Homo sapiens: one gene and its partners. The protein of the gene in region 1 interacts with the protein of each later gene in a biochemical or structural test. Each region holds a gene or a part of one and is shown in the gene's direction. Other genes may lie near its edges. The genes, in order: ERBB2, ABL2, BLK and PTPN11.

The links.
Region 2: the proteins of ERBB2 (region 1) and ABL2 form a complex in vitro, tested with the Homo sapiens proteins (3 studies listed by BioGRID and IntAct, with this or other methods).
Region 3: the proteins of ERBB2 (region 1) and BLK form a complex in vitro, tested with the Homo sapiens proteins (2 studies listed by BioGRID and IntAct, with this or other methods).
Region 4: the proteins of ERBB2 (region 1) and PTPN11 form a complex in vitro, tested with the Homo sapiens proteins (2 studies listed by BioGRID and IntAct, with this or other methods).

Annotation. Positions count from the first base shown.
Region 1 is NC_000017.11:39,695,615-39,703,302, forward strand, and holds the start of ERBB2 (receptor tyrosine-protein kinase erbB-2 isoform a precursor), read left to right. Parts: upstream 1-4,449; 5' UTR 4,450-4,624; coding exon 4,625-4,697; intron 4,698-7,175; exon of another isoform or gene 7,176-7,300; intron 7,301-7,688. UniProt on the Homo sapiens protein: Protein tyrosine kinase that is part of several cell surface receptor complexes, but that apparently needs a coreceptor for ligand binding. Essential component of a neuregulin-receptor complex, although neuregulins do not interact with it alone.
Region 2 is NC_000001.11:179,226,667-179,235,042, reverse strand, and holds the start of ABL2 (tyrosine-protein kinase ABL2), read left to right. Parts: upstream 1-5,365; 5' UTR 5,366-5,645; coding exon 5,646-5,802; intron 5,803-8,376. UniProt on the Homo sapiens protein: Non-receptor tyrosine-protein kinase that plays an ABL1-overlapping role in key processes linked to cell growth and survival such as cytoskeleton remodeling in response to extracellular stimuli, cell motility and adhesion and receptor endocytosis.
Region 3 is NC_000008.11:11,545,979-11,553,386, forward strand, and holds part of BLK (tyrosine-protein kinase Blk), read left to right. Parts: intron 1-73; coding exon 74-125; intron 126-2,053; coding exon 2,054-2,147; intron 2,148-3,045; coding exon 3,046-3,144; intron 3,145-4,180; coding exon 4,181-4,284; intron 4,285-6,507; exon of another isoform or gene 6,508-7,408. UniProt on the Homo sapiens protein: Non-receptor tyrosine kinase involved in B-lymphocyte development, differentiation and signaling. B-cell receptor (BCR) signaling requires a tight regulation of several protein tyrosine kinases and phosphatases, and associated coreceptors.
Region 4 is NC_000012.12:112,484,545-112,491,952, forward strand, and holds part of PTPN11 (tyrosine-protein phosphatase non-receptor type 11), read left to right. Parts: intron 1-1,918; coding exon of another isoform or gene 1,919-1,930; coding exon 1,931-2,085; coding exon of another isoform or gene 2,086-2,089; exon of another isoform or gene 2,090-2,379; intron 2,380-3,898; coding exon 3,899-3,966; intron 3,967-4,479; coding exon 4,480-4,631; intron 4,632-4,639; exon of another isoform or gene 4,640-5,444; intron 5,445-6,473; exon of another isoform or gene 6,474-6,880; intron 6,881-7,408. UniProt on the Homo sapiens protein: Acts downstream of various receptor and cytoplasmic protein tyrosine kinases to participate in the signal transduction from the cell surface to the nucleus. Positively regulates MAPK signal transduction pathway. Dephosphorylates GAB1, ARHGAP35 and EGFR.

The DNA of each region.
Region 1 (7,688 bases):
CGACTCCTCCCGATTTCTGTTTGTTTTCAGTCCTCTGACCCCAAGCTGGCTGGTGAAGTAGGTAGAGGGAGGAGACTTTGGTGCATGCATACACACACACACACACACACACACACACACACACACACACACACACACACACACGTCTCCTGTGCCCCCCAGTCTCCATGGCTGGTCAATGATTGACTGGCATTTCACAGGCCGCTGGTTGCAGCCCCAGCCTGTTGACTTAGAGGTCACCCTCGGAAGCTAGAGCCCTGTCCTGCCTCTTCAGTGTCAGTGGTCACTCCACTGCCCACAGGCTGGGGTCTTGGGCAAAACACACGCATCTGCCCTGATCTGAGTTTGCTGCCCTCTGTCCCGCAGTCAGCCCCACTCTGTTCCCACTCCCTCTCCCCAGCCCCCTAGCTAGACCCCTCTCACCAGCACCCCTTTCCCTTCCCTGAGGGTCCCCCTCGCTGTCTTTGTCCCTCAGACATCCTCTTTCCTGGGCTCTCCTGCCAGGCCCTGCTGGAGGGACAGTTAAGGAGGAAATCGAATCAGCAGCGCCCACCCCTGCCCCCCTTCCTCTCCTCTTGTCAGACACCAGACGAGGTTTTTTCCTCTGGCTTCCCAGCTCTGAATGGGCTCATTCTTTTTCAGAGGCTCGGCCCCTCTCGAGCCTCCTCCCCAGGGCGTGAGTTCTGACCCCAGCTCCTCCCCCCATCCCCACTCCAGCCCCCTCTCCAGCTTGCTCCACCCTCTCTACCGCCCACCGGGACTGGGCATTGTCTGCCAGTCCGGGTTTCTTCCTGGGATTTGGGATGCAGAGAGGATGGGTTTGCTTGGGCGGGGGGGTGGAGAGTGAAGGGGGGAAGCAGGATCTTTGTAGAGGGAGGGACCTACAGTTACCTGGACTTCTTTCCTCTGTCTCCCCTCTTGGTACCCTTGACTGGGGCTCTTGAGGGTAATGGGTGAAGCCAAATCTGCCATGGCTCAGTTCCCAGCTCAGCTCTGTGACCTTGGGAAAGTTCCTTTAGCTCGTGGAATCTCAAGGCTCAAGGTTCCTCTTCTGCAAAATGGGGAATGATAACACCTGCCTCCTCTGGAGTCTTGGGGACTCAGTGTTCTGAGGAACGTGGCTGTAGGTCAGAGTGGCACAGAGTAGGGTCCAATGAAGCATGGCGTCCACAGTAGCTTTCCTGACTGGACTAACCTTTCCGGACACAACAGCAGGGCAGGGGTGGGGCCTGGGGAGAAAGGACACCTCTAACCCTGATCCTAACATCCCGATGGCCTCTAAGGCTGCCTGCACACTCATCCAGGTGCAAGCCCTCCAAGGTGTGGTGTGATGAACCAGTGACTCCTGGAGCCAGGTCAGCGCATCCTCTTCCCGCAGGGCTGTAAGCTGCAGGACTGAGAGGCAGGTTGACCAGGTCCTGGGCTGGATGATGGGGTGAGAGTAAGGGGTCAGTTTTGATACATGCCCAACTTTTCTCTCTAGCCCTAAGACATCCTGGGCAAATTGCTTACCTCAGTTCCCCTGATCCTCACCCTAACCCTAACACCAGCTCAAGAGAAAATAGGGATATTGATGGCCATCCAGAAGGGCTGCTGTGTTCCATACACAGCAATATTTCTCGAATGTTTGTGACAGCGGTCCAAGGAATAAGTTAATTTTACATTATCACTCTGGATACCTGTACAAAACTCCACCTTATCCTTACTATATGAATGTGCTAGGGTTGTTTTTTTGTTTTGTTTTTTTTTTTTTTTTTTGAGACAGAGTTTCGCTCTTGTTGCCCAGGCTGGAGTACAATGGCGCGATCTTGGCTCACCGCAACCTCCGCTTCCCAGGTTCAAGCGATTCACCTGCCTCAGCCTTCCCGAGTAGCTGGGATTACAGGCATGCGCCACCATGCCCGGCTAATTTTGTGTTTTTAGTAGAGACAGGGTTTCTCCATGTTGGTCAGGCTGGTACCAAACTCCCGACCTCAGGTGATCCACCTGCCTTGGCCTCCCAAAGTGCTGCAATTACAGGCATGAGCCACCGCACCCAGCCGTGCTAGGGTCTTTTTCTGTTCAATTCCTTTCTCTCTCTTGCTCTCTTTCTTTCTTTCAATGGAGTCTTACTCTGTCACCCAGGCTGGAGTGCAGTGGCAAGATCTCAGCTCACTGCAACCTCTGCCCTCTGAGTTCAAGCAATTCTCCTGCCTCAGCCTCCCGAGTAGCTGGGATTACAGGTGCCTGCCACCACACCTAGTTAATTTTTGTACTTTTAGTAGAGATGGGGTTTTGTCATGTTGGCCAGGCTGGTCTCGAACTCCTGACCTCGTGATCTGCCTGTCTTGGCCTCCCAAAGTGCTGGGATTACAGGCATGAGCCGCCATACTCGGCCAACTTTGTATTACTTTCTTAAAGAGAGTTTCCCAAATTATATAAGCTTCAGGCCCCACAAAACCTAGATCTGCCCCAGTATAACTAAATCTGGGACCATTTATTGAGCAATTATTATGTGCCAAGTATTGCGCTGAGTGCTTCCAGAGCATTATCTCCTTTAACCCCAGCATAGTATGTCAGATGCTGTTTTACAGATGAGCCAACTGAGACCAGAGATGCTCAGTCACTTGCCCAAGGTGACATGACTGATATGGAATAGAGTCAAGATTTTTTTTTTTTTTTTTGACACGGAGTCTCACTCTGTCTCCCAGGCTGGAGTGCAGAGGCGCAATCTCAGCTCACTGCAAGCTCTGCCTCCCAGGTTCACGCCATTCTCCTGCCTCAGCCTCCTGAGTAGCTGGGACTACAGGCACCCGCCACCACACCTGGCTAATTTTTTGTATTTTTAGCAGAGACAGGGTTTCACCGTGTTAGCCAGGATGGTCTCGATCTCCTGACCTCGTGATCTGCCTGCCTCGGCCTCCCAAAGTGCTGGAATTACAGGTGTGAGCCACCGCGACTGGCCAGATTCAAGATTTGAACCCAGGTCCTCTTGGTCCCAGAGGCCCCTGTTTCTCAACTCCCTAGGATGGCATAGCAACCTGTCCCACAAGAGGTGCCTGCTTTAAGTGTGCTCAGCACATGGAAGCAAGTTTAGAAATGCAAGTGTATACCTGTAAAGAGGTGTGGGAGATGGGGGGGAGGGAAGAGAGAAAGAGATGCTGGTGTCCTTCATTCTCCAGTCCCTGATAGGTGCCTTTGATCCCTTCTTGACCAGTATAGCTGCATTCTTGGCTGGGGCATTCCAACTAGAACTGCCAAATTTAGCACATAAAAATAAGGAGGCCCAGTTAAATTTGAATTTCAGATAAACAATGAATAATTTGTTAGTATAAATATGTCCCATGCAATATCTTGTTGAAATTAAAAAAAAAAAAAAAAGTCTTCCTTCCATCCCCACCCCTACCACTAGGCCTAAGGAATAGGGTCAGGGGCTCCAAATAGAATGTGGTTGAGAAGTGGAATTAAGCAGGCTAATAGAAGGCAAGGGGCAAAGAAGAAACCTTGAATGCATTGGGTGCTGGGTGCCTCCTTAAATAAGCAAGAAGGGTGCATTTTGAAGAATTGAGATAGAAGTCTTTTTGGGCTGGGTGCAGTTGCTCGTGGTTGTAATTCCAGCACTTTGGGAGGCTGAGGCGGGAGGATCACCTGAGGTTGGGAGTTCAAGACCAGCCTCACCAACGTGGAGAAACCCTGTCTTTACTAAAAATACAAAAAATTAGCTGGTCATGGTGGCACATGCCTGTAATCCCAGCTGCTCGGGAGGCTGAGGCAGGAGAATCACTTGAACCAGGGAGGCAGAGGTTGTGGTGAGCAGAGATCGCGCCATTGCTCTCCAGCCTGGGCAACAAGAGCAAAAGTTCGTTTAAAAAAAAAAAAAAGTCCTTTCGATGTGACTGTCTCCTCCCAAATTTGTAGACCCTCTTAAGATCATGCTTTTCAGATACTTCAAAGATTCCAGAAGATATGCCCCGGGGGTCCTGGAAGCCACAAGGTAAACACAACACATCCCCCTCCTTGACTATCAATTTTACTAGAGGATGTGGTGGGAAAACCATTATTTGATATTAAAACAAATAGGCTTGGGATGGAGTAGGATGCAAGCTCCCCAGGAAAGTTTAAGATAAAACCTGAGACTTAAAAGGGTGTTAAGAGTGGCAGCCTAGGGAATTTATCCCGGACTCCGGGGGAGGGGGCAGAGTCACCAGCCTCTGCATTTAGGGATTCTCCGAGGAAAAGTGTGAGAACGGCTGCAGGCAACCCAGGCGTCCCGGCGCTAGGAGGGACGCACCCAGGCCTGCGCGAAGAGAGGGAGAAAGTGAAGCTGGGAGTTGCCACTCCCAGACTTGTTGGAATGCAGTTGGAGGGGGCGAGCTGGGAGCGCGCTTGCTCCCAATCACAGGAGAAGGAGGAGGTGGAGGAGGAGGGCTGCTTGAGGAAGTATAAGAATGAAGTTGTGAAGCTGAGATTCCCCTCCATTGGGACCGGAGAAACCAGGGGAGCCCCCCGGGCAGCCGCGCGCCCCTTCCCACGGGGCCCTTTACTGCGCCGCGCGCCCGGCCCCCACCCCTCGCAGCACCCCGCGCCCCGCGCCCTCCCAGCCGGGTCCAGCCGGAGCCATGGGGCCGGAGCCGCAGTGAGCACCATGGAGCTGGCGGCCTTGTGCCGCTGGGGGCTCCTCCTCGCCCTCTTGCCCCCCGGAGCCGCGAGCACCCAAGGTGGGTCTGGTGTGGGGAGGGGACGGAGCAGCGGCGGGACCCTGCCCTGTGGATGCCCCGCCGAGGTCCCGCGGCCGGCGGGGCCAGAGGGGCCCGGACGAGCTCTCCTATCCCGAAGTTGTGGACAGTCGAGACGCTCAGGGCAGCCGGGCCCTGGGGCCCTCGGGCGGGAGGGGGCAGTTACACGGCAGCGGCTCGAGATGGCCCATCCAAGAGACTGGCGCTTTCCAGGCTCCGAGGGGCTCCGGGAACTTGTCAAAGAAGTTCTCTGAAATTGTTCAGAAAGTTTTCCCGCAAAGGGTGTATTGCGTAGAGCGCGCGCGCGCGTTTCCCCCCTTCTTGAGCCCCCTCAAGCTTTCTCAAAGCCTTTCCAGTTGGCAGCCTCCGCCTCCGGACTGGCCTGGGCTGGATTCCTTGGGGGGGTCCTCTGCCCTGCCCCTCCTCCAGCCCCTCCCCGCTCCCCTTCAGACGATTTTGGTTTGGTTGCTCCTGCTTCTGGCGGGGTCGGGTGTGTGTGTGTGTGGTGGAGTGGAGGGTGGCATAGCAACCTGTCCCAACCAGAGCCGGGGAGGAAAGGGTGGCCCGGAGGGTGGCCTCTTGCTGGGGTCTGGGTTGGGGGCGGGGGAGACGTTTGCTTTGAACAGATTCTTGGGGCCAGCTTAGGGACTGTGCTCTGTGACTTTTGGAGCGCGTGGACCATGGAGGGGTGGGGGTGGGTTTCTTGGGGTGTAAAGTGGGAGAGTTCCCAGAGAAGGAAGCTAAGAAATAAGGCCAGATGGGAGCCTAGGGAGGGCTGCGTTGTTCTGCTGCCTTTTCCTTGGTGCTGTGCGTGGGGAAGGGTGAGTGGGGGCAGTGTGTATCCTGACCCATCTGTCCACCTGTGTGCATTAATCATAAAAGCTAACATATAGCCTGGGCCAGGTATACTCTGCCAGGAACTGTTTGTGGTGTTTTGCATGCATTCTCCTTTAATCCTAGAACACCCCTATAGTGGAAGTTCTGCCAGCATTCTGGACTGAGTAGCAGTCCAGAGGTTGAGTAGCAGCTAGTAAGTGGTGGGGTCAAGATGGGACCCCAGGCAGTGCGACCCCCAACCATGCATTCGAAATCGCTATATGGATGAGTGCACCTGGAGCAATGAGGGACACTGCTCCCTGAGTCACTGGGCTGCAGGGGAGACAAAATGAAAGTGTTCTGGGAGTCGTGGGTGGTCTCCATAGGTCAGAGGGTCTGGGGAGGGAGTGGGTGTCATCGTGGCTGTGTGTTGCCCGAGGGGCCCTCTGTGAGTGAGTGCATGGCCGTGTTATCTCTGCAGGTCTACGCCAGGGTGTTCCTCAGTTGTGTGGTCTTTGTATTTGTGTGTCTGGGCTTTGTGTTGCCAAACAGCAGTCTCTCTGCTGACTTGGGGACACAGGCTGAACTCTGTCCTCTGCAGGAACTCCCTTAAGGTGCTGGGCCAGATCTGCCATAAACAGAGGGAGGTAGCCTTCTATGGCCACGCCTTCTTGCTGAGGAAGAAGGTTCCTCTCTTCCAGGGAGTACATCCTTGCCCTCCCTGTTTCCCAGACAAGCATCTTCACCTCTCATCTTCTGATGAGAAGGGTGAGGCCATACTGAGCTGTCAGGCTGAGCTGCTGCCCTTCCTCACCTTGGGCTGGGAGTTGATCAGGGAATGGCAGTTGCTGCAGAGCTGGATTTGAGGGCTGGGTTCTCTGGATGGGGCCTCCTCATGTCCTCACCCCTCAACCTGCACTATTGATTGTGTTGTGCAGGAGTTAGTTAAAAAGTCATTGCACAGCCTGGGCAACAAGGCAAAACTCTGTACAAAAAATACAAAAATTAGTTGGATGTGATTACACGTGCCTGTAGTCCCAGCTACTCCGGAGGCTGAGGCAGGAGGATCACCTGAGCCCAGGAAGTTGAGGCTTGCAGTGAGCTGTGATTGCAAATGCTCTCCAGCCTGGGTGACAGTGTGAGACTCCGTTTCAGAAAAAAAGTATACCACCCAGCTGCCTCCAGCACCCAGATTTTACCCAAGGGGTGAGGTCTGGGGCAGGAATGTGGGGGAAGGGGAGGCCTAGGGGGAGCCCCAGAGGGGTCAGGATTTTTCTGAAATCCTTTCTTAGAGGTATGGGTTTTACAAATTGCAGCAAATACATCCTTTTAATCTTGCAGAACTCCTTCATATTTTAATTCCAGTATGATTCTTCCAACAGCCTCCTCTCTTTACTATACTTGGGGAAAGTACTCATTTTATTTGTCAAGAAAAAAACAATTGAAAAGATAGGGATCAAATGTAAAAAGAAAAAATACGTGGCATTCCAAAGTCAAACACAAAGCATGTTTAATTTTCTCGTGGTTTGGGATTACCCATATTCCTGCTGTATGAACCTGTCTTGTCTTAACTTTTAAGAAATGTACGGTGTACTTCCTATATGCTAGGTTTTTATCCATGCTTTCATTTAATCTCTGTGACAGTCCTGTGAAGTAGGTGCACAGATGAGAAAATGGAAGTTCAGAGAAATGAAGCAACTTATCCAAGGCTCCCAGCTACCCAGTAATGTCCAGGGAATTTTTGGACTCTGAAGAGGAGGCATTAAGAGGTGGTTAGAGTCTTATTCCAGCCAACAATAATGGGTTGAACAAAGCCTTAGGGGCAGGCAGGTGGCCAGATGGGAGGAGAAGCGCTCCTCTTGTTCAGGCGAATGACCTTTCCATCCACTTCTCTAGGCTGTAGAAAGTGGAGCTGAGCTGGGGGCCCTGAGGTTCCCTCTTGACTTCAGAGTCCTCTCCCTTCCTGTCCAGCCAATGCCTGTCTTCCTTTTGGGCCCTACCAGCATGACAGGGGGCTGCGGGCAGGAGGGGACAGAGGCCACGTTGACACACAGGGCTGTGGGTGAGAGAGACAGCTGAAGTGTCAGCGTGAGGGGCCAGTGTGGGGCTGCGGCTGGGAGGGCTGGGGTGGGGCCCAGGGTAGTTGTGCCTGTCCTT
Region 2 (8,376 bases), on another chromosome or scaffold:
TGTTTTAAGCCACTAGGTTTTGTGGGGTGTTTTGTTATGCAGCAGTAGAGAACTGAAACAACCCATTTCACATCAGTAATAAACTAGGCCCACATCAATAATTAACTATCACTACACTACAGTTAGTGATAGGCTACATGTTAAATGGATTGTTTAGTCAGCTATTTCATTACCTTTGAAAGGGAAATGAGTAATAACTTATTAATTTTAAATGAATAGATATTATTGCTACTGGTAACATTTATACAGCACTTGGCCAGTTGTTCGAAATAGTCTCCTAATAATTTATAAGGTTTTTTAAATCAAAGAAATGTTGAATCATACACTCTTGGGGCTAAAAGGAACAAGAGGTCATTTAATCTGTCTCCCTACTTTCAAAGAGAATGACTAATTCTGTGCCAGCCAGATAGGAATCTTCTAACTCCTCCTCCTCCTCGTTATCTCATCCAAAAAGACTTTTAAAGTGTCAATCTGTAAATGGAACTGTATTTGGCACTCTATAGGTCTTTAAAGATTTAATACAACAATGCAGAGACAAATCACATAAACAAAGTCCAAAGAACTGTGTACATAAACAGTTTAAGAAAAATGCTGGCCAGGCTCTGGTGGCTCGCACCTGTAATCCCAGCACTGTGGGAGGCCAAGGCAGGTGGATTACGAGGTGAGGAGTTCAAGACCAGCCTGGCCAAGATGGTGAAACCTCATCTCTACTAAAAATACAAAAATTAGCCAGGTGTGGTGGTACACGCCTGTAATCTCAGCTACTCAGGAGGCTGAGGCAGAAGAATCGCTAGAACCTGGGAGGCGGAGGCTGCAGTGAGCCGAGATCATGCCACTGCACTACAGCCTGGGCAACAGAGTGAGATTCTGTCTCCAAAAAAAAAAAAAAGAAAGAAAAGAAAAAGGAAAATGCTATACGTAAAATTACAACAAAATTTTTTTCTCTCAATTTATCTACATAAACATTTTCAGCCCACGTAGATAAATATAGATAGATAAACATAACTATATAAACATGCATATATGCAAGAAAATAAAAGATTTGGGGAAACATGATAGCTTTCAAATATGTGAAAGATTTCATGTAGAATAAAGATTATATTTGTTCTGTGTAGCTACATGGTAGAATTAGAACTGGGGTGAAACAGGTGGAAGTTTCAGGGGAACATTTTTCAGTTTATCTTTAGGAAGAACTTTTTTTTTGAGACTGAGTCTGGCTCTGTCACCCAGGCTGGAGTGCAATGGTGTGATCTCAGCTCACTGTAAGCTCCGCCTCCTGGGTTCATGCCATTCTCCTGAATCAGCCTCCTGAGTAGCTGGGATTACAGGCGCCTGCCACCACGCCCGGCTAATTTTTTGTATTTTTGGTAGAGATGGGGTTTCACCATGTTAGCCAGGATGGTCTCGATCTCCTGACCTTGTGATCCGCCCACTTTGGCCTCCCAAAGTGCTGGGATTACAGGCGTGAGCCACTGCGCCTGGCCCAGGAAGTATGTTTTAATAATTAGAACCTTTTGAAAGAAATGGATACCCTCACTGGAATTACTGCAGAGAGGATTCCAGATTAGCCTACATGACCTCTAAGTTTCTTTCCAACTCTATGACACTTGAGTCATGTGTCAAAACAAAACAGCCGGGTGCGGTGGCTCACGCCTGTAATCCCAGCACTTTGGGAGGCCAAGGCAGATGGATCACAAGGTCAGGAGATCGAGACTATCCTGGCTAACACGGTGAAATCCCATCTCTTCTAAAAAACAAAAAATTAGCCGGGTGTAGTGGTGGTCGCCTGTAGTCCCAGCTACTCGGGAGGCTGAGGCAGGAGAATGGTGTGAACCCGGGAGGCGGAGCTTGCAGTGAGCCGAGATCGCGCCACTGCACTCCAGCCTGGGGGACAGAGCGAGACTCCATATCAAAAACAAAAAACAAAAAACAAAAAACCATATTTGAGGGATGTAGAGGAAGGTAAGCGAATTTTATAACGAAAGAATTATTACCAGTTGTGGTTAAGGCCTGTACTGAATAGAGTCCGAGGAAACTGTTAGGTCTGTATTAATAAGTCTGAGGTTCTCTTATCAAGGAGGCAGGATCTGAATAGAATACTGAAGAGGACAGTAGAATCCTGTAAGGGAGTCACTCGAGACTTATATTAGGGAGAATATAATTATTGCAAAACTCATAGCTAAAAGGGATACATCTCAGAAATAGGCTAATTGGATAAAGTATGTATGCCTGCCATAGGAAAGGTGGAGGTTGGAGGAACAGGAGATGGAAGAACATTAGGCAATTATAATCCAGTTATCCTGGAAAATAACTTCGAAACACTAGGTGAAACGTTTATTTTGTTTATTTATTTATTTATTTATTTATTTTTGAGACAGAGACTCCCTCTGTCACCTAGGCTGGGGTGCAGTGGCGCAATCTCCTGTCACTGCAACTTCCGCCTCCTGGGCTCAAGCAATTCGCCTGCCTCAGGTTCCCCAGTAGCTGGGATTACAGGCACGCGCCCCCACGATTGGCTAGTTTTTGCATTTTTAGTAGAGACGGGGTTTCACCATATTGGCCTGACTGGTCTTAAACTCCTGACCTCAAGTGATCCGCCCACCTTGGCCTCCCAAAGTGCTGGGATTACAAACATGAGCCACTGTGCCCGGCCCATTAGGTGAAAATTTTAGACTTAAGACTTTGTACGTAATGAATGAGAGGGAGAGTGTGGTCAAAGCAATGAGAGAAGCAGTTTCTTTGAGTGAGTTGCTTGGTGCTAAAGGTGAGGAATCTCTAGGAAGAAAGGGCTAGTAGCGGGAGAAACCAGCGCAGAGATGCCTAAGCTAACACTGTGTCTTACATAACGCTGTTTATATAGATGAAGGGAAGAGGTAGATATGAGAGATACTGTAAAACTGTAAAAAGTATGGCAATAGCCTAGAAATGCAGACTGGTGAAGTCAGGGATTGGTGAGGCATTACTCACAAGCTCCTTCCTTCTGGAGAGAGTGGTGTTGCTCCTGTGATAAGGATGATGAGGATGAAGAGTATCTGTGTCTTCAGCACGCCTTACTGCTGTTGGTGATGTGTCTGATCTTTTATGCTGGCCTCTGGCCATTGCTCAAATTTATATATATATATATATATAAAATTTGAAAAAGTTAGGCTTGTAAAACCTAAAACCATTATGTTTTTTGTATTAATAGTATATGCATATATGACACCAGTTATATGCCAAATACTGTTTTAAGTACTATACATATATATTGACTAATTTAATTTTCACAATATTCCTATAAGGTAGATACTATTTGTTATCATCATCAGTTTACAGATAATGTACTGAGACACAAAAAGGTTATGTACTTTGCCCAGATCAAATAGTCCATAAGTATCAGGGCCAAGTTATGAACCCAAGCAGTCTGGCTTCAGAGCCCCTGCCCTTAGCCACTGCACTCTACTGCAGGCTGAGCAGCCCTTATCAGAAATGTTCGGACCACAAGTGTTTCAGATTTGGGAATATTTACACACACATAATGAGATATCTTGGGCATGCGACCCAAGTCTAAACACAAAATTCATTTATGTTTCATATACACCTTTATACACATAGCTTGAATGCAATTTAATACAATATTTTAAAAATTTTGTGCATGAAACAAAGTTTATGTTAAGTACTTACGTGAAATGTTCCACCTCTGGCATCATATTGGTGCTCAAAAAATTTCGAATTTTGCAGCATTTTGGATTTTCAGATTTGAGATGTTCAACCCATATATTCATCTATCTTTATATAGTATGCATGAATTAGCAGAGAAACCAAACCATTATCCCCAAATTAAAATTTTCTCCCATAATAAAAATCAAACAGTAAACCAAATTCCGGCTCTGTGACATCTTTATCCCTTTCGAATGAATTTTTTTCAGTAGTTGCAAACACTGGGAATTAGAAGAAAAGACAGGTATTTTAAACACAGGGAAACTTTAATCCAAATGGAAAGTTCATATTTTATCCAGTGTTTACACATAGTGTTTCCGTTCCCATTTTGGAGTTAATTTCAGTTATTTCTGGCTACACCCTAGATGGCAATGGAATAATTTCATAGTGCTTTTACAACAGGCAATATCTACGTCAGTGGATGGTTCATCTAAGGTCAACCTGGTTCAGGAAAGATATGCAAAGGAGAGCTTCATCCACCTCTTCTCCCAACCCTACATTTCCAGTGGTTGTTTTGTTCCTTCTTTGCAGTGGCTCCCGTCCTGTCTAATTTAAGCAAAATTTCAGTGTAGTACCTCCATTAACTGATACTTTTTATAAAGCAAATTGGGAAGCCAAAAGAATAACAGGAGAATGATCAAGATTTGAGAATTAAAAAAAATTGAATTAAGATGCAAGTAAACACAGTGGGAGAGGGGGATGGCGAGTCAATTGTATATAGTATATGTGTATGTATAAAACGCTTCTTTTCTGCCTCATTCACTCTCTTTAGACTGCATAAGCTAAAATGAGTAAGTTCTGACTCAGAAACAGGGTCAAAGATATATATTTTTTCTCCTTTGTCATCAAAAGAAGACCTGACCACGTGCACAGTGTATAAAGGATGCCAGTGGGAAGATTAACTTTACTGTCAGGCATTGTAAGGAAACAGAAACTCACATATGGTGAGATGGTAAAGGAGTTCAAGAGGAATTCATGGTAATATAATATGAGGAATGGGGCTACAATTGCGTCCCCAATGAGACTATAGAAGGCACACAATCCAGGCCAGTGCGATTTAACATCATGAAATAATCTCCAAAAATTAAAATCAAATAAGGTAGCATTTTACTCTCTTCTTGTAAATTTTATACCATTTTAATTTTTACTGGAGGCCTGCTGCTGACAAGGGTGTTTAAAAGAGATCCCCCTGGGTATTTTAGAGCTCCTTAACTGGATGGCAAGGACCAAATAAATGCCTTGTGCTTTTCTGCCCCACCTGTGCCTGCACCTGAGCTGCGCACGCGGTGGCACTGAGCCCTCGACTCACTCATTTGACAGGTGGAGGTGGGATGGGGAAGGCCGGAGACCGACCAACCCCAAAGGCGGTAGCGTGTGGAGCCGAACGCGGGAGGGGGTCGGCTGAGGCGGATTGAGGGGGGGGACGCCGAGGTGCGGCGACAGGACGCGGAGGACGAAAGACCTCAAGCAGCGGTGGCCGGCAAATGAGGTGGGCACTGGGGGACCCACCCTGCGAGGAGGCGGGGGCGGGGACGGGGGGCGCGGCGCGGCAGGGCGGGGCGGCAGCCGGGAAGCCCTCCTTCCCCGCGGCGGAGGTGACTGGCGGGCGGGGGGCGGGGGGCGGGGGGCGGGAGACGCTCTGTCCCACGCTTTCCCAGCGCTCGGTGGTTTAAAGATGGCGGCGGCGGTGGCGGCGGCGGCGGCGGCGGCGTTGGGGGCGCGGAGCCGCGACAGGAGGAGGGAAAAGCAGAATCTGTGAGTCGCCTGGAGGCAGCGCGGCGGCTGCCGTGAGGAGGCCGGGTGCGGAGCCGCCGGTGGCCCAGCCACTCAGGGCCAGGGCCTGGGCTGGGAGGGAGAGACCGGAGCAGCGCCAGGAGCCCGAGGCCGGAGCCGAGGAGGAATGTGACCAGGGGTCGGCGGGGGCGCGGGAGTACGCGAGAGCAGGGATGGGGCAGCAGGTGGGCCGCGTCGGGGAAGCTCCGGGGCTCCAGCAGCCTCAGCCCCGCGGGATCCGGGGCAGCAGTGCAGCCAGGCCCTCCGGCCGCAGGCGGGACCCGGCGGGGCGCACCACAGAGACCGGCTTCAATATCTTCACCCAGCATGGTGAGTGTGTCTGGGAGCCGGCATGAGAGCGTGGGGGAGGCCGGGGGTGGGGTCGGGGCGGGGTGGGTGGCGGACGGGCTGCCCGAGGGGTCGGAGGGTGGAAGGTGCCTGAGAGTGGGGGCGGAATCCGCTGCCATCTGGTCCAGTCCTGGGAGGCGAGTCACACCCCTCCCCCCTCGCGTCTCTAGCCTGGCTGGCAGATCCCGGGGGCGGAGAAGGAAAGAGAAGTGGGTTTGGGGACCCTGGATGGTCTGTCCTCTACTCTGGGACGGGACTATGCGGCTGCAGAAAGAAAGTGAATGGCAGCTTCAGGAGAGGGAAGGATGAAGGGCAGTATTAGCTCAGTCCCAGAGGTGGGAGCATAAACCCGTCGTTAGTGAAGGGGAAATGGGTTGTATCCTAAGGGATTGGGAAATGGGAACTGAATTTCAGGAGATTGTGGAGTACAAGGTATGTGTTTACGTTAGGTGATGAGCAGTGTCAGGATAGTGAACTGTGGACAGTGTCAAATGCTTTTCTGTAGGGAAGATGAAGTTAGCATCATCTTATCACTTTTGACATGCTTTTGTGGTTTATTTTGTTTTGTATTTCGTTTTTACTAGAAATGAAAGGCTTTGCCAAAGCCTCTGTACTATGCTTCAGAGTAGGACACACAATTCTGAGATTGCTGGCAAGGGCTAGAGGTTGGTGGGCATGGTTAGGACGTCAGTCAGGATATGAACAAGTTTTCCTTTGTAGTGTGTGCGTGTGCCCATATACATACATACATGTATGTATGCTCCCTGTAGTCTGAAACCTATTATTTTGATCTCATTGTCAATGTATTTTTAGAATAGTTGTCTCCAAACTTTTTTTGTCTTGTTTTTTTGTTTTGTTTTTGTTTTTGTTTTTTTTGAGACAGAGTCTCGCTTTGGTCCCCATGATGGAGTGCAATGGCGGGATGTCGGCTCACTGCAATCTCTGCCTCCCGGGTTCAAGTGATTCTCCTGCCTCAGCCTCCCGAGTAGCTGGAACTGCAGGTGTGCACCACCACGCCCGGCTAATTTTTGTATTTTTGGTGGTGGTGGGATTTTGTCATATACTCCTGACATCAGGTAATCTGCCTGCCTTGGCCTCTCAAAGTGCTGGGATTACGGGTGTGAGCCACCACCGTTCCTGGCCCAAACTCTTTTTTTTTTTTTTTTTTTTTTGGAGACGGAGTCTCATTCTGTCGCCCAGGCTGGAGTGCAGTGGCGTGATCTTGGCTCACTGCAACCTCTGCCTCCCAGGTTCAAGCGATTCTCCTGCCTCAGCCTCGGAGTAGCTGGGATTACAGGCGCCCGCCACCACACCCGGCTAATTTTTTGTGTTTTTAGTAGGGTGGGGTTTCTCTATGTTGGCCAGGCTGGTCTCGAACGCCTGACCTCATGATCCACCCGCCACAGCCTCCCAAAGTGCTGGGATTACAGGCGTGAGGCACTGCGCCTGGCCACATGTCTCCTATTGAAGATGTGCTTGAGTGTCTCTTTCGGGTATATGAACACTTTATGAAGGTGATATATGAGCTAATCTTTATTAAAATCACTTCCTAAAACACAGGATGGAAGAATGGATTAGTAGTTTACAGGGAAGAAATCATCCAAGTAAGCTTCACTTTGTGGGAAGTGTTACTATGCATTAAACTTGGCCTAGTAGGCAATGGTGATCCTCTTGCTTTACTATCTTATTCGGTATGTAAGATTTTCCAAGAAAGAGGAAGTCATGAAGAATGGAATAGGAAGACATTTTGAGGATTTGGATCTATGGAGAGGGAGAACAATTTGGGTAGAAGAAACAACTTGAACGGGAACATGGGAATAGATATAATTTGTTGATGGGCTAGTGAGGAGACAGCTGTCAGGAATGAAGCATCATTATGAGTTGGAAGAAAAAGATCATAGAGCAAAAATTGGAAGAGTCAAGTTCTGGTTCTGGCTCCACCTGCCTGGGTGATTTTAGTCACCATCTTTGGGTTTCTTTATCTGTAAAGTGAGGAGGTTGGACTGGATGATCTCTAAGATACTTTCTGGTTTTAAGATTTTATGATTCTAATTAAGAAGCAGTAGAAAGAAAATTTTGATAGGCTGGATGGGACTGGGTTATGGAAAATCTGGCAGAGAAGTTTATATCCATTTACCTGATTGGCTAGTCTTTACCTGAAAGACTGGCCTTGAGTGGTGGCAGTGGAAATGGGAGGAGTAATTTCAAGGGTCCTTTCATTCATTCAACAAACAAGGGTTTTTTTTGAGCACCTGTTATGTACTGGATTGTGGGAATGTTGCTGTGAACATAACAGAGTCCCTGCCCTTTGGAACTTAAAGGACTTTATGATTTGATAGAGGATGAAAGAAGAGAGATCACTTTGGAGTATTTGTTAAGGGCATGAACTCTGGACCCATTTTTCCTGGATTTGAAACCTTGCTTGGCTGCTTATGAGCTTTGTGACCTGGGACAAGTTATTTAACTTTTTGTGTCTTGGACTCTTCATTTGTAAAGTGGTGATAATAATAGTACCTAGTATTAAATGAATAGTGGCTGGGCACATAGTATGAGCTA
Region 3 (7,408 bases), on another chromosome or scaffold:
AGCAGTCTCAACCCCCAGGCCCCACCCACGCAGCAGGGACTGAAATAACTCAAGTGTGTGTTTTCTACCCAAGGTTGTCTTCAACCACCTTACTCCTCCACCGCCCGATGAACACCTGGATGAAGGTAAGAAGGGTGGTTTGGGAAGCTGAGGCTCCACAGCCCTCTCCCCTAGGTGGCAGCTTTGTGGAGTTGGAAAAAGGTTGAGTCAGGAGCAGCTTGAGGGCTGGAGAAGAGAAAACGGGGAAGCTGAGAGAGGCCCCGGCTCTGTGCCTCTTGGGGCGTCTCTTCAGGAACCAAGAACAAGTTTCTTCAGTATGCCTGAGCCTGGGTGGGACTTTTAAAACATGAAAGACTTTACAAACTGTAAACAAGAACAAAAACAAGAGTCCCAGGGAAGACACACAGCATCATCAAACCCAAGTTTTAAAATATGCTAACTCTCAAACGCAAAGGGCTGGGCCAGTGGCTCCAGGCCCTTGCCTCCAGCCCCTGTCCGCTCTATGTGGAGGGCACCTTCTTGTTTCCCGCTCCCAGTCACTTCGAGAGTCCCGCTGCTGACCACCTAACCACCCACGCCCCTACCTGGTCCCCAGACTCCACTTGGTTTTTTTTGAGACAGAGTCTCGCTCTTGTCACCCAGGCTGCAGTGCAGTGACCCAACCTCAGCTCACTGCAACCTCCACCTCCCGGGTTCAAGAGATTCTCCTGCCTCAGCCTCCCAAGTAGCTGGGATTACAGGTGCACACAACCACACCGGGCTAATTTTTATGTTTTTACTAGTGAGGGGGTTTCACCATGTTGGCCAGATTGGTCTTAAACTCCTGACCTCAGGTGATCTGCCCGCCTCAGCCTCTCAAAGTGCTGGGATTACAGGCGTGAGCCACTGTGCGTGGCCCCTAGACTCCACTTCTGCTCTGGTGGGCTGGCCTGCTGGGTACTGTAGGGAATGAGCTCAGCCTTTCTGGGCCAGAGGCTCCACCCCTGGGGACTCCCAAGAGGGTGGCCTCCTTCAAAGTGACTTCCCGCAGCCTCCTCATCATCCATGTCCACACAGCATGGGGAAGGGATGCCTCGGCCAGCCGGGCCCCACCCATTAACCTGCTCATATGATGTGTACTGGGCATTCAGCACACAGAGCCCAGCTCTGTCCCAGGAATGGCGAAGGGGTGACAACAGGTAGATGCGACCCCTTCCCTGGAAAAGCTCAGAATCTGTCACACTTGTGAGCAGAACCTGAATCTTAAAACTTCAGGGAACCACTGTCACCCATTCTGACCCTCGCTTTCCTGCTGAGAAGAGGTGACCAGCCCGAGGTCACAACACTCAGCTCAGTGACAGAGCGGAGCCACCCCACCCGGGGAAGCTAAGTGCTCTCCAGGTGACCTTCATCAGGTGGGTCCTGTGGCTCCCAGAGCTGTGCAGAGAGCCTGCGTCACAGCAGGGCTCACTTGAAGATGGTGCTCCAAGCTCCTGAGCCCTCTTCCTGCCTTCCATCCAGGGCCCGCCAGCAAGGTGGGGGGCCCGGCAGGGTCACTGGCAGCCATAGACAGTGTGGCTGGGGCTCTGGGCACAGACAGTGGAGAGGCCAGGGCTCCAGCTGCCACGTGGCAAGACCACCCCTACTGGGGATAGAGGCAGGCGGGGCAGAGGAGGAAAAGGATAAGAGGAGGCTTATGGGCCTCCGAGGGCAGGTGTAGAATAAGAAGATGAGGGCTCCCAGCACTATGTCCGAATGTGGGCCTGAGGCCACCAGCAGCCCGGCAGTGGCTGCCTCCCTGTGGCTGACCTCTGGCCATCAGCTTCCTCACACACGCCTTGTCCAGGTCATAGGGCTTCTTAGTGGGTCCACAACGGAGGACAGGATGGGCTCTGGGGGGCAGCCCATCCCTGGTGGGGTCACAGGGCTGGGGGTGGGGGCCTGTGCTGGGTGAGAACATCATTTCCATCGTGGGCAAGCAGAAGCCTGTCCTCCTTGGTAGCCAGGCTCACCCCAGCCCCACCTTCCCGCTTGTGGGCCTGAGTGGTGGTCATCTCTCCCTTGTTCATTTTAGACAAGCATTTCGTGGTGGCTCTGTATGACTACACCGCTATGAATGATCGGGACCTGCAGATGCTGAAGGGGGAGAAGCTACAGGTCCTGAAGGGGTGAGGTTCCAGGACACCATCCCCTGTCCCTGCAGGACCCCCCTCCCCCACATCTCTCCTTTCTCCACCCACCACATCCTCCATGGCTGACCCTGGAAGTCTTCTCCATCGCCCTGCCCCCAGCCCTGGCCCCAGCATTTTCTTGAACTTGGCCCTTTTGTCTTCCTCTCCAAAATCTTTCCGGTGAAGTAATTTCCATTCACAACCTCCTGCTCATCCTTCAAAGTCCACGTTCCATGCCACCGCCTCCATGCAGCCCTCCTGACTCTTTTGGGCATGTGGACCTTGTCCTTTATGCAGGCTGGTCTGGCTGTTCCGTGAAAGCCTTGCATTTAAGCCAGTTGTGTCCATATTTGTCTCCTTTTCAAGACAGGAGCCCACACTGATGACACACACCAATCCCGCTTTAGCTCATTTCCCATGTCCTTCTCAGAAACTCCTTCTAGGTCAGCTCTCTCTCAGTGGCCAGGCTTGTCCTGTGGAGCTCTGAGGGTCTGATTTGGTTCTTGAAGTTCTCCAAAGGCCCTGAGCCAAGCTCACGAAGGTCCTGACTGCTGATTCTATACAGTCCACGCCAACCGTGTTTTTCTCAAGCCTGTCCCCAGTCCCTCACCAAGCTCTGAACACGTCCCATTCATCAAGAGGAAGGCTGCTGGCTGGATCCTTGTGCCCTCTTGGCTGGTCAGGCTGTGTAGATAAGCTCTTCCCCCTAGAACTTGCCCGGATAGCCACTGTACCACTGAGCAGTGGGCACAAGCCCCTTCCTGCCTGCCGTACTCTCTACCCCTGCGGATTCTCTGCCCTCCAGGGAGAGATGACTTTGAGGAGGCCTGAGAGCTGCCCAGTGACGGGCCTACAGGGGCCATGATCTCATCTCTGTTTCCCCTGCTCCCATTAGAACTGGAGACTGGTGGCTGGCCAGGTCACTCGTCACAGGAAGAGAAGGCTATGTGCCCAGTAACTTTGTGGCCCGAGTGGAGAGCCTGGAAATGGAAAGGTAGGTGGGCACGGGAACCCCCCTCGAGCCAAGATGCAGTCACTGTTTCTGCTCCCTGGGCTGTTAGGCAGGGCAGGGCCAGAGTGGGACTGACCAGGGAGCCTGCAGGCACTAGCAAAGAGGGGACAGGAAATGAGCTCTGCTGGGAAAGGCCTCTCTGCTGGCTCCAGACGACATTCAGACTGCTGTGTGACACTGAGCAAGCCGCTCTTCCCAGCTAAACAAGAGCGGTCCTTCTCCTGGCTCCCCTGGATGGAACCGGCCCCAGTGTCTGATGGCCTCGAAGGCTACCAGGGAGGCACTATGACCAGCATCCCCTCCCCTACAGCCTCCATGGGCAGGACTCAGGGCTCAGCCCTCGGGGGCTCCCAGGAGGGTGGCGTTGTTCAGAACTGATTAATACTCCCAATCTTCTAATCCCCCAGCCCCCATCTTCTCCCATGTCCCCATGGCACTGGGAATTTCGGACTCGGCCAGCCAGAGCCCCCACGAATCTGCTCACAGGGACTAGCTCTGCCTGAGGACTGAGGCCCAGCAACGAGTCTTCTCTGGACACTGTGGGCCCCGCTTCTTTCCCTGGAACAGTGTGGGGAACCGTGGGGCTGTCCTGCACAGAACAACCCCATACCGAAGGGGACATACTGGGGTCCCTGCTCAGAGAGTCTCGGCAGTTTGCCTAATTCAGATCTCAGACTGCAAGGAGGAGGCACGTGCCTGTGATACGCAGCTGTGCTTTGGAGAGAGTGATCAGGGGCATTTTTCCAAAGCAAAATTAACAAAGGTCAACCAACTAGTGTTCTTGTTTCGTTCTAGGAAAACAGTGAGTCCAGGGCTGACAGGAAGCGGAACTGGAAGGGCAGCGGGGCAGAGGGCACTGACTCCATCACGGTGTGAGGAGCAGCAGCTCAGGGCCGACTGGGACCAGAAATGCTAGATTTTTATTTCTTGGGGACAGGCAGTGCAGGAGGGAGGCTGTGTGGGAATACTCCGAGGAGCAGGGTCGCTCTGAGTTTCACCTGTTCCTGCCGTTTTCCAGGTGGTTCTTTAGATCACAGGGTCGGAAGGAGGCTGAGAGGCAGCTTCTTGCTCCAATCAACAAGGCCGGCTCCTTTCTTATCAGAGAGAGTGAAACCAACAAAGGTAGGCTTGGTGGCTTTGCCTGCCTTCCTTGCCCTGCTCCTCCCGGGAAGGCGCCTCCAGAGGCCTGGCCCTGGAGTGAGAGGGGAAGGGGTGACTGCCAGGAGAACCAGCAGCTTCCGGGCTTGTGTCCCTCCCAATTCAGGCCCTGCCCGGGAGTTGACATGGGGGCTGTCCACACAGTCCTCCCTGTCCCGGCTGGAAACCACCTGGGCACAGGAAGCCGGGTGGACAGGGGTGGTCCCACGCCAGACTGGCCCTGCTGCCCAGTCAGCAGGAACACCGAGGCCAGTGGGGGCCAGGGAAGGGGGAACCCTGAGCCCTTAACCACCAGCCTCTTTGGAATCAAGGATTAGGGGGAGCTCAAAGAATCCTTCAAGATCATCTCAGCCAGAGGCTGCAGGTAGCATATGTTAGGAAGTGGCCTGTGCCGTGATGTAAGAGAAGAGGGTGGTAATTGAGGGGAGCCCATGCCAGTCTAGACACTCATGAGTTCAAATCCACTGACTGAGCAAAACAGCTGCCATCACCCTCAGGGGTTTTCTCTCTTTCTCTGTCATTTGGCTTTCTTTCCTTCTTAATTTTTTTGGTGTAAAATATAAAACACATATAAAGCTTGCATGAAGTATGAATGTGTAATTCTAAATCATATAGGGTAATAATAAACAAATCCCTGTGTAATGACAGCCAAGAGAAAGAGCATCCCAGACCACCAGGAGCCCCCTCACTCCCCCACTTGGGCTCCTTCCTGATTCAACCCCCACCCTCAAGAGCTACCTGCTGTCCTGACTTGGATGGAAATCCTTCCTTGCTCTTCTCTGTGGTTTCGCCACCATGTCTTGTCTGTTTTTTCAGCTTGATGTAGATAGAATCACTGTTTTTGTTTCTGTGTGTCTTGCTTCTGTCACTCAGCAGTGTTTGTGGGATTCTATGTTAGTTTCCTGGGCTGCCGTAACAAAGTGGCACAGACTGGGTGGCTTCCACCACAGAAGCTTATTATCTCACAGCTCTGGAGGCTGGAAGTCCACGACCAAAGTGTCAGCAGCGTTGGCTCCTCCCGGGAGCTCTCTCCTTGGCTTGCCGATGGCCGTCTTCTCTGTGTCCTCACGTGGCCGTCCCTCCATGCATGTCTGTGTCCTAATCTCTTCTTGTAAGGACACCTGTCAATTTGGATTAGGGCCCACCCATATGACCTCATTTTAACTTAATCACCCCTTTAAAGGCTCTGTCTCCACATATAGCCACATTCTCAGGACCGAGGGTTAGGACTTTAACATATGAATTGGGAGCGCACATGATTCAACCAGTAACAGATTCATTCATGTGGTTGAGGATGGTGAGCCTGTTCATGTTCATTGCTATACAGAATCCCGGGTGTGACCATTCCAGAGTCAAGTTAGCCATTCTCATGTTGTGGGCATTGAGTTGTTTCCAGTTTGGGGCTGTTAATGCATGTGTTGCACCGAACCCTATTATGGTCCCTGGTGCTCACTGGCCACTAGCTTTTCGTCTGTAAGATACTAATCCACTTGACAGATGAGGAAAGGGAGTCCCTGAAACAGGAAGTGACTTGCTGGGGGCCAACAGTAAGCATCAGAGCCCAAAGCACCAGTGACCACATCATCTAAGAGGCTGAGAGGCTTCCCAAGCTCTACAACGTGGCAAGCTAGGGTGACCCAGGGGCTTCCCAGGCAGTATGAAGAATGCTTTGCTCATCAGGAAGCTGTCCACAGGGACCAGGTACAGCCTTGTAGCCAATTTTAACTGGAGAGGAGATGGTGACAGTGACATCAGAGGAGGAAAGGGAGAGAGAGTGTCTGGAATATGAGTCTGGTTCCCTGTGGTTGGGGCGATGAGAATGGACAGAGTTGTCACCTGGTGGGAGCACCCTTGGGCTGTCCATTGGTTCCATCTGTGGCTCAAGAACAGCAGCCAGAGTGGAAACCCAGAGTATGAAAAGCTGTCATAGCACCCTGTGATTCTCTGGGGACATCATGAGGCCTTGGTGCCCCACAAAGGGGCAGGACCAGGTTGGGGAGCAGGAAGGGTGCATTGGAAAGCTGGGGTGCTCTGTGCAGGATTTCTTGGAATATGCCAATGAATGCATATACATACATATACATACACATAGATATATGCATTTTATATTTATATTCATATTGGATATTGTCACTATTTCATTTTTGTGGCAGAGCACCTCTGTACAAGAAATAATTTGGGAATCACTGGAGATGACATAAGTGTTTTATTGTTGTTCCAGGACATTTCAAACATACACAGAAGTAGAGAAAATAGTTTAGTGGAACCCCTGGTACCCAACAGCCAGCTTCAACAATTATCAACTGAGCCAGTCTTGTTTCATCTGTATCTCCCGCTCCACCCCTGTTCTTTCGAAGTAAATCCCAAACATCATGTCATGTCACCCTGGAAATGATATTTCAACCATTGCCTATTGCTAAGGTGAAAGCCTCCCCACCCCCTGCCCAATCTGGTGTGGAGGAAGAAGGGGTTCTCTATGAGTCTGGCATCTTTTCCTGTCCATGTCCACCCCAGGAAGCCAGTCCAAGCTGGGAATAGGCCATATGGGACCAGGGCTGCAGGACTGTTCAACCATCATCACCACCACACGCACATACACATGCACACATGAACACACATGCACATATGCACAAATGCACACATATACACACATGTGCATACACAGGCATGTGTGCACACATACACATGCAAACACATACACATGTCCACGCATGCACATATACACACACACGCACACATATACATGTGCACATATGCACAGATGCAATGAACACGTGTGCAACACATGTACACACCTTACACGTACATATGCACACACACACACAACTCCAAAGCAAGACCCCTCTGCTTCTCCGAGCCACAGCAGTGAATGCAAGACAGGGATGGAAGCAGGGGAGTGAGTTCTACCCTTCGTGGCCTCCGGGGTGTCCTTGAGCCTCTCAAGCCTCAGTTTACTGGTGTCTATGTGAGGATAGACTAGTTTCACAGCTCAAAGGCAGGCGGTCCTTCAGTGCTGAGAAATCTTCATCTCAGAGCCAGGCCCTGCCTGCCCAGGGCAGTCCAGACATACCACAGAGGCAGGGGATCC
Region 4 (7,408 bases), on another chromosome or scaffold:
GGCTACAGGAAGTGACGGGGGGACCAGAAGGAGCTGGAAACCAGTGTGGTTGTGGCCCAGGGTGGGATGTTTGGATTTCTGATGTCAGAGAGGGTCCAGTCCTTCTGATGATGGGGAGGGGTGGAGGCTGAATCTATGGTAGAGATAGTGAGAGGAACTGGAACAATGTAGCTGTCAAGTGGAAATGGGAGAAAGGGCTGGGCGTGGTGGCTCACGCCTGTAATCCCAGCATATTGGGAGGCTGAGGCAAGAGGATCGTGTTAGCTCAGGAGTTCTGGGCTGCATTGAGCTGTGATTGTGCCACTGCACTCCAGCCTTGGCAACAGAGTGCCCAGTTAAAAATAAAAATAAAATAAAATAAAAAAATTAAAAAAAAAAGAAGAAGAAAAAAGAGAAAAGTGTCCTTTTACATCCCTTTTAAAAATGTCACTTAAGGCTGGGCAAAGTGGCTCATGCCTGTAATCCCTGCACTTTGGGAGGCTGAAGTGGGTGGATTACTTGAGGTCAGGAGTACAAGACCAGCCTGGCCAACATGGCGAAACTCCTTCTCTACTAAAATTAGCTGGATGTGGTACATGCCTGTAGTCCCAGCTACTCGGGAGTCGAGTCTGAGGCCCAAGAATTGCTTGAATCGGGGAGGCGTAGGTTGCAGTGAGCTGTGATCAGGTCACTGTGCACCAGCCTGGATGACAGAGTGAGACTCTGTCTCAAAAAAAAAAGTCACTTAGCTTAGATTGTCTCTACATATATAGGAAGAAGATGTAGGAATGAATGGTGCTGCTACAATTACGTCATCTGGATAGACCCAGAAACATGATACTTTTTGGTTTTCTGTAGCCTTGGTGCCATTGTTGATCTTTATTAATTATCATTATCCTCAAAATAGCCATAATGTGCTGAGTCTCTTCCTATTTGCTGGGCAGAGGCTGAGTATTTCAGCGAGCTCACTGAGTCCTTAAAATTGCATTATGATAGAGAGAAAGAGATTATTATTTGCATTTTGCAAAATGAAGAAATTGAGGTTTAGAGATACCCAAGGGCCACGTGAGTGTGAGTGCCTGGAATTGGAGCCTAAATCTAGTCATCTGATAGCAAAGCCTGTTTTCTTATCTGCTTTGCATTAAATATAAGTTTAAAATAGAACAATACTGGCCAGGCTGGGTGGCTCACGCCTGTAATCCCAGCACTTTGGGAGGTCGAGGCAGGCAGATCACCTGAGGTCAGGAGTTTGCAACCAGCCTGGCCAATATGGCGAAAGAAACCCCATCGCTACTAAAAATACAAAAATTAGCCAGGCATGGTGATGTGTGCCTGTAATCCCAGCTACTTGGGAGGCTGAGGCAGGAGAATGGCTTGAACCCGGGAGGCAGAGGTTGCAGTGAGCCAAGATCACGCCACTGCACTCCAGCCTGGGCAACAGAGTAAGACTCTGTCTTGGAAAAAAAAAAAAAAAAGAATGATACTATAGTCTGTGTTTATATGGTGGGGAAGGTTGAGTATCAAAAAAATAACAAAGAGGAATGAATGTCTTAAGTGAATGCCTGTTTCCCCATCTGCTTCCTCTTCTGCTGGGAGGAGAGACCTGGATCCCTAGAGGTTTCAGTTGCCTCCAGAGCTGAGTGCCACAGGGATGCAGGGGAATAGGGATGTTACCTGTCGCTGGTAATTCAGAGAGATGATTCAGGGTATAGTTACCTGAAAGAACAAATTGCCATGCCAGACGTCTTGGTTCTTATGACAGAGGCAAAGAGTTGCCTCCAGGATTGCCCAAAAGGAGACGAGTTCTGGGAACCTCACGAAGAGGACCTTTCAGTGGAACCTGGGGAGATTCTCTTCCTCTCCATTGGATTTAGGAAAGCTTAGAACCGGGTGATTCCTCAACCTCTTGATTTATTTAATTCTTTTCTGGTTTTTCTTGGCTCTACTCCAGGGGAATACGGAGAGAACGGTCTGGCAATACCACTTTCGGACCTGGCCGGACCACGGCGTGCCCAGCGACCCTGGGGGCGTGCTGGACTTCCTGGAGGAGGTGCACCATAAGCAGGAGAGCATCATGGATGCAGGGCCGGTCGTGGTGCACTGCAGGTGACAGCTCCTGCTGCCCCTCTAGGCCACAGCCTGTCCCTGTCTCCTAGCGCCCAGGGCTTGCTTTTACCTACCCACTCCTAGCTCTTTAACTGTAGGAAGAATTTAATATCTGTTTGAGGCATAGAGCAACTGCATTGAGGGACATTTTGATCCCAAGGCATATTTCTCCTAGACCCTACAGCACTGCCATTGGCCATGGCCATGGCAACATGCTCAGTTAAAACAGCAAAGACTAAGTCAGCATTATCTCTGAGTCCACCAGAAGTTGTGCATTAAACAACTTCATCCTGGCTCTGCAGTTTCTCCTTATTCTTCATGATGTTTGCTTTGTAGCTGTTGACTGCTTTGTAGGTATTGAGGTGGTGGGGGTGTGGTGGAAATAGGCCTGACTCTTGAGGATCCCTTAAGTCATTTTTGCTTGGTTCTCTTTTTCCTTCTTTTCTTCTACTCTTCTATGATTCATCTCTTTGATTGTGATTCTGTTCTCTCTCTCTCTCTCTCTTTTTTTTTTTTCGTTTTTGAGACAGAGTCTTGTTTTGTTGCCCAGGCTAGAGTGCAGTGGTGCCATCTTGGCTCACTGCAACCTCCGCCTCCCGGGTTCAGGCCATTCTCCTGCCTCAGCCTCCCAAGTAGCTGGGATTACAGGCATCTGACACTACGCCCGGCTAATTTTTGTATTTTAATAGAGACAAGGTTTTGTCATGTTGGCCAGGCTGGTCTCGAACCCTTGACCTCAGGTGATCCACCTGCCTTGTCCTTCCAAAGTGCTGGGATTACAGGTATGAGCTACCATGCCCGGCCCATTCTGTTCTCTTCTACCATAAATATATTTCTCCCCTAACACTATATTTGTTTGCTTCACAAGATTCCAGCTGCTTTTCCACCAAGGCCTTTGATGGAAGCTGTGCTGTGACCTCTGTAATGAGTCTGTGGGCTGCTGATTCTCCAGTTTGGGCTTCATGATTATACTGGGGAATATTGGGTTTCCTAAATCTCATTCATTTCTTGGGCAAGTAGATATATGTGAAAGTGTTTATTTGTCCAGTTGTTAAAGAAGCTACCATTTATTGAGCCAGCCTCTGAGCACAATGTTTTTTGTTTTGTTTTGTTTTTAATTTTTAAAATTATTTACTTCTTCTATTTCAATAACTTTATTATTATTATTTTTTGAGACAGAGTCTCACTCTGTCACCCAGGCTAGAGTGCAATTGAGCGATCTTAGCTCACTGCAACCTCTGCTTTCTGGGTTCAAGCAATTCTCATGTCTCAGCCTCCCGAGTAGCTGGGATTACTGGTACGTGACAACATGCCTGGCTAATTTTTGTGTTTTTAGTAGAGACGAGGTTTTGCTATGTTGGCCAGGCTGGTCTGGAACTCCTGGCCCCAAGTGATCCTCCTGCCTCGGCCTCCCAAAGTGCTGGTATTATAGGTGAGAGCCACTGCGCCCGGCCCTCTTTCAGTAATTTTGATGTATTTTTTTGTATATGATTCCTGTTTCATTCTGTCCAACCAGCACTCTGTATGGTATGTGCTGTTGTCCCCATTTCACAGATGCAGAAATTAAGGGTCAGAGAGGTTAAGGGACTTACCTCAGGCACGTTGTACTGGAGAAGCTGAACTCCAAGAGCAGGTTTGGGCTGACTCCAAAGCCCTATGCTTTTTGCCAACATATTTTCAAACATAAATAGACAATTTTATAAATAGCTCCAAAGAGTAGACATTGTTTCTGTTGATATTAATGGCTTGGTTTTGAGTCTGAAACCCCCATGAATGATTCTGTTGTCCCTGCTTTTTGTCCTTCTGCCCGCAGTGCTGGAATTGGCCGGACAGGGACGTTCATTGTGATTGATATTCTTATTGACATCATCAGAGAGAAAGGTGGGTCATCTGGTGGGCAAGAAGCGACAGTTTCTGTTTTTAGTTTATGGAAGGAAAGTGCTCACGAAAACAGTCTGGGGAAGAGAGGTTGAATGGGAAAATTCTTTCACAAAAATCTGGGCTGAAGACTTCAGTGTGTCTGCCTGAGAACAGAAGTGACACTATTTGAGCTTTTGGCATAAAATGAAGTCTAGGAGCTGCAGAACCCACTGCCATGGCCTTTTGTTGCATACACAGTGGTGGTCTCTATCCAGCCACCTGACCTTGTTTACAGTATGGGGTGATTTGTTGGCAAGTGAGGGAATCCTGACTTCTGCCACTTCGTTATTTATGTAGTCTTCTGGGATCATTGGTATTGGTCAGAAGTTCAACACTGTAGCCATTGCAACATGCTCAGTTAAAACAGCAAAGACTAAATTAGCATTGTCTCTGAGTCCACTAAAAGTTGTGCATTAAACAACTTCATCCTGGCTCTGCAGTTTCTCTTTATTCTTCATGATGTTTCCTTCGTAGGTGTTGACTGCGATATTGACGTTCCCAAAACCATCCAGATGGTGCGGTCTCAGAGGTCAGGGATGGTCCAGACAGAAGCACAGTACCGATTTATCTATATGGCGGTCCAGCATTATATTGAAACACTACAGCGCAGGATTGAAGAAGAGCAGGTACCAGCCTGAGGGCTGGCATGCGGATTCTCATTCTCTTGCTAGGCCTCTTGGATACGCTCTCCTTTTGAGCAGGAGGACAGGCTCTGATAGACAACTGTTTGATTTCGGAATGGGAAACAAACTCCCAACTAAAAGGGCCTCTGGAAACTGTCAATTATTCTCCACTTCTCAGCTCTGATTTTTCACTGCAGAGGAGCTTAGGGAAGGGCACCATCCTATCAGCCTGGCCTGCCAGATTGAAGAACTGCCATGCAGAAAGGTTCTGATGTTCTCAGGCTCATGTGGCAAGCGTAAAACTCAAAGCCTTGAAGTTTCTAGCCTGTTCCAGCCTTGATCCAGGCCATGTTTATCCTGATTCCATCCTTTAAAACGAATGCCTCACTCTTAATAGCGCACGGCAGTTTGAACCACTAATTTGGTCGAGTTGGAAACAGTGAAATTTCAATTTTAATAAGCTGTGCATAATGAAGAGGAATGTGGAATTGGAGCCTTTCCATCTGAAGCTATTCATAACAGGCACAAAGCTGAGTTAATTAGGAATATGCTGAGATGAAGGAAATGAGGAGAGCTGCTCTTTTGGGGGCTGTGCTTCTCTCCCCAACCCCTCAACCCCATTGCCATGCTGCAGATGGGGTGGTGTCTAAACATCAGTGGCGAGTGCCTGCATTACTCTGCTCGTTGCCTTCCAGAGAACTCAGCTTCTCCAAATGCTGAGCTCTTTTCAGAATGGGACCTGCCACCAGTATTTGAAAGATTTCTAGCCTAGCAGAACAGCAGCCACGTTATCAAAGTTTGGTTGGCCAAAGGAAGGTACTTGCTAATTAGTTTAGTAGGTTTTCAGTCCGCACAGACATACGGGATTGTTTTATTGTACATAGACATCTTCAGAAACAGTGTATGTATAGAAATGTAAGGTCAAAATTTGAACCTCAGTGCTTTAAATCTGAATTTGTATTAACTGATATGAAATATTTAGACGGTTACTTTATTTTATATCTGTCTTCCATTATACTTAATTTGGCTCAAGAATAGTTAGGCAAAAAGTTGCCCAAAGAGAAGGATCTCCTAGTAAATACAAAGAGAATGTAACATAGTTGCTACAAGTTGGAGCATGTTCAGGGATGTCTTTTTTTTTTTTTTTTTTTGAGAGAGAGGTCTCTCTCTGTTGCCCAGGCTGGAGTGCAGTGGTGTAATCATGGCTCACTGCAGCCTCAATCTCCCAGGCTTAAGCGATCCTCCCACCTCAGCCTCCCAAGTAGCTGGGACTATAGGCATGCGCCACCACACCTAGCTAATTTTCGCATTTTTTGTAGTGTCACAGTTTCGCCATGTTGCCCAGGCTAGTCTCGAATTCCTAGGCTCAAGCAGTGCTTCTGCCTCAGCCTCTCTGAGTAGTTAGGACTACAAATTTGTGGCTCCATGCCCGGCTAATTTTTTTATCTTTATTTTGTAGAGACAAGGTCTCACTGTGTTGCCCAGGCTAGTCTTGAACTCCTGGGCTCAAACAACCCTCCCACTTTGGGTTTCCAAAGTGCTGGGATTACAAGTGTGAGCCACTGAGCCCAGTGACCTCTGGGTTTTAAAAATGTGTAGGCTTCAATTATTTATTTTAAAAAATGAAATCCTGCAATATATAGTTTTCTGCGTTGTGTGGTTTGAATCAATCTGGGAACTGGCTTGCTGGCTGATTGTGGTAAAGTAAGAAGTACTTAATTTAGTAGAAAGTTTAAATGGCAGACATAACATTAAACCCAGCTGATTTATAAATGAAGCAAAAGAACAAAACTCATTCAGGATAATTGGTTATTCTAAAATACAGTCATTTCTAAAATTATGAAGTGTTCAGGACCTTTGGGAGTGAAAGAATTTGCTAAAGAAGGATCAGTGAAAAAAAGGAATGATGGGTGAAGAGCTGTGGAGAAGGAAGAGAAGAAACAGCACAAGGAAGGAAGAATATAAAATCAGATGTGGGAATCCAGGGGAAAGTGCAAACGAAGCAAGATTGAGAAAATTCTCAAGTTTTTATAAACAGTTCTCACACTCTGCCAGTTCCTTGGAGGTAGACTTTTTTGTTAACTTCCAACTACAGTAGTGAAAAAAAAAAAAAAACCCTCAAATTTGCAAAAGCAGTCTGTGGAATTTTCTTTACCCAGCTTTCCTGACTGTTAACTTTTTAGCACACTTAACTTTATCATTCGTTTATTCTCTCTGTTTAAAATTAAAAATGTAAATTTTAAAAAGTAAAATGTTTGTTGGTTACAAACATTTATACCCCTTTGTCTCTAAATATCATTTCATTTTAAAAAATGAATAATCTAAGCCTACACATTCTAAAATGTGTATATTTTCTAAAAATAAGGGCATTCTCTTACATAACCAATGTCACAATTATTTGATACAGTGATCAAAATCAGGAAACTAACATTGATATAACACTATTATCTAACCTACAGACCATCTTCAAATTTTGTCCTGCTAGTATCTTTTATGGGTCCAGGGTCACACAGTGCATTTGGCTATAATGTATCTTTTTTCTCTTTTTTTGAGACAGGGTCTCACTTTGTTGCCCAGGTTGGAGTGCAGTGGTGCAATTATGGCTCACGGCAGCCTTGACCTCCTTGGGCTCAGGTGATCCTCCCACCTCAGCCTCTCGAGTAGCTGGAGACCACAGGTGTGCACCACCATGCCTGGCTAAGTTTTGTATTTTTTGTAGAGATGGAGCTTCGCCGTGTTGCCCCGGCTGGCCTTGAACTCCTGGGCTCAAGTGACCCTCC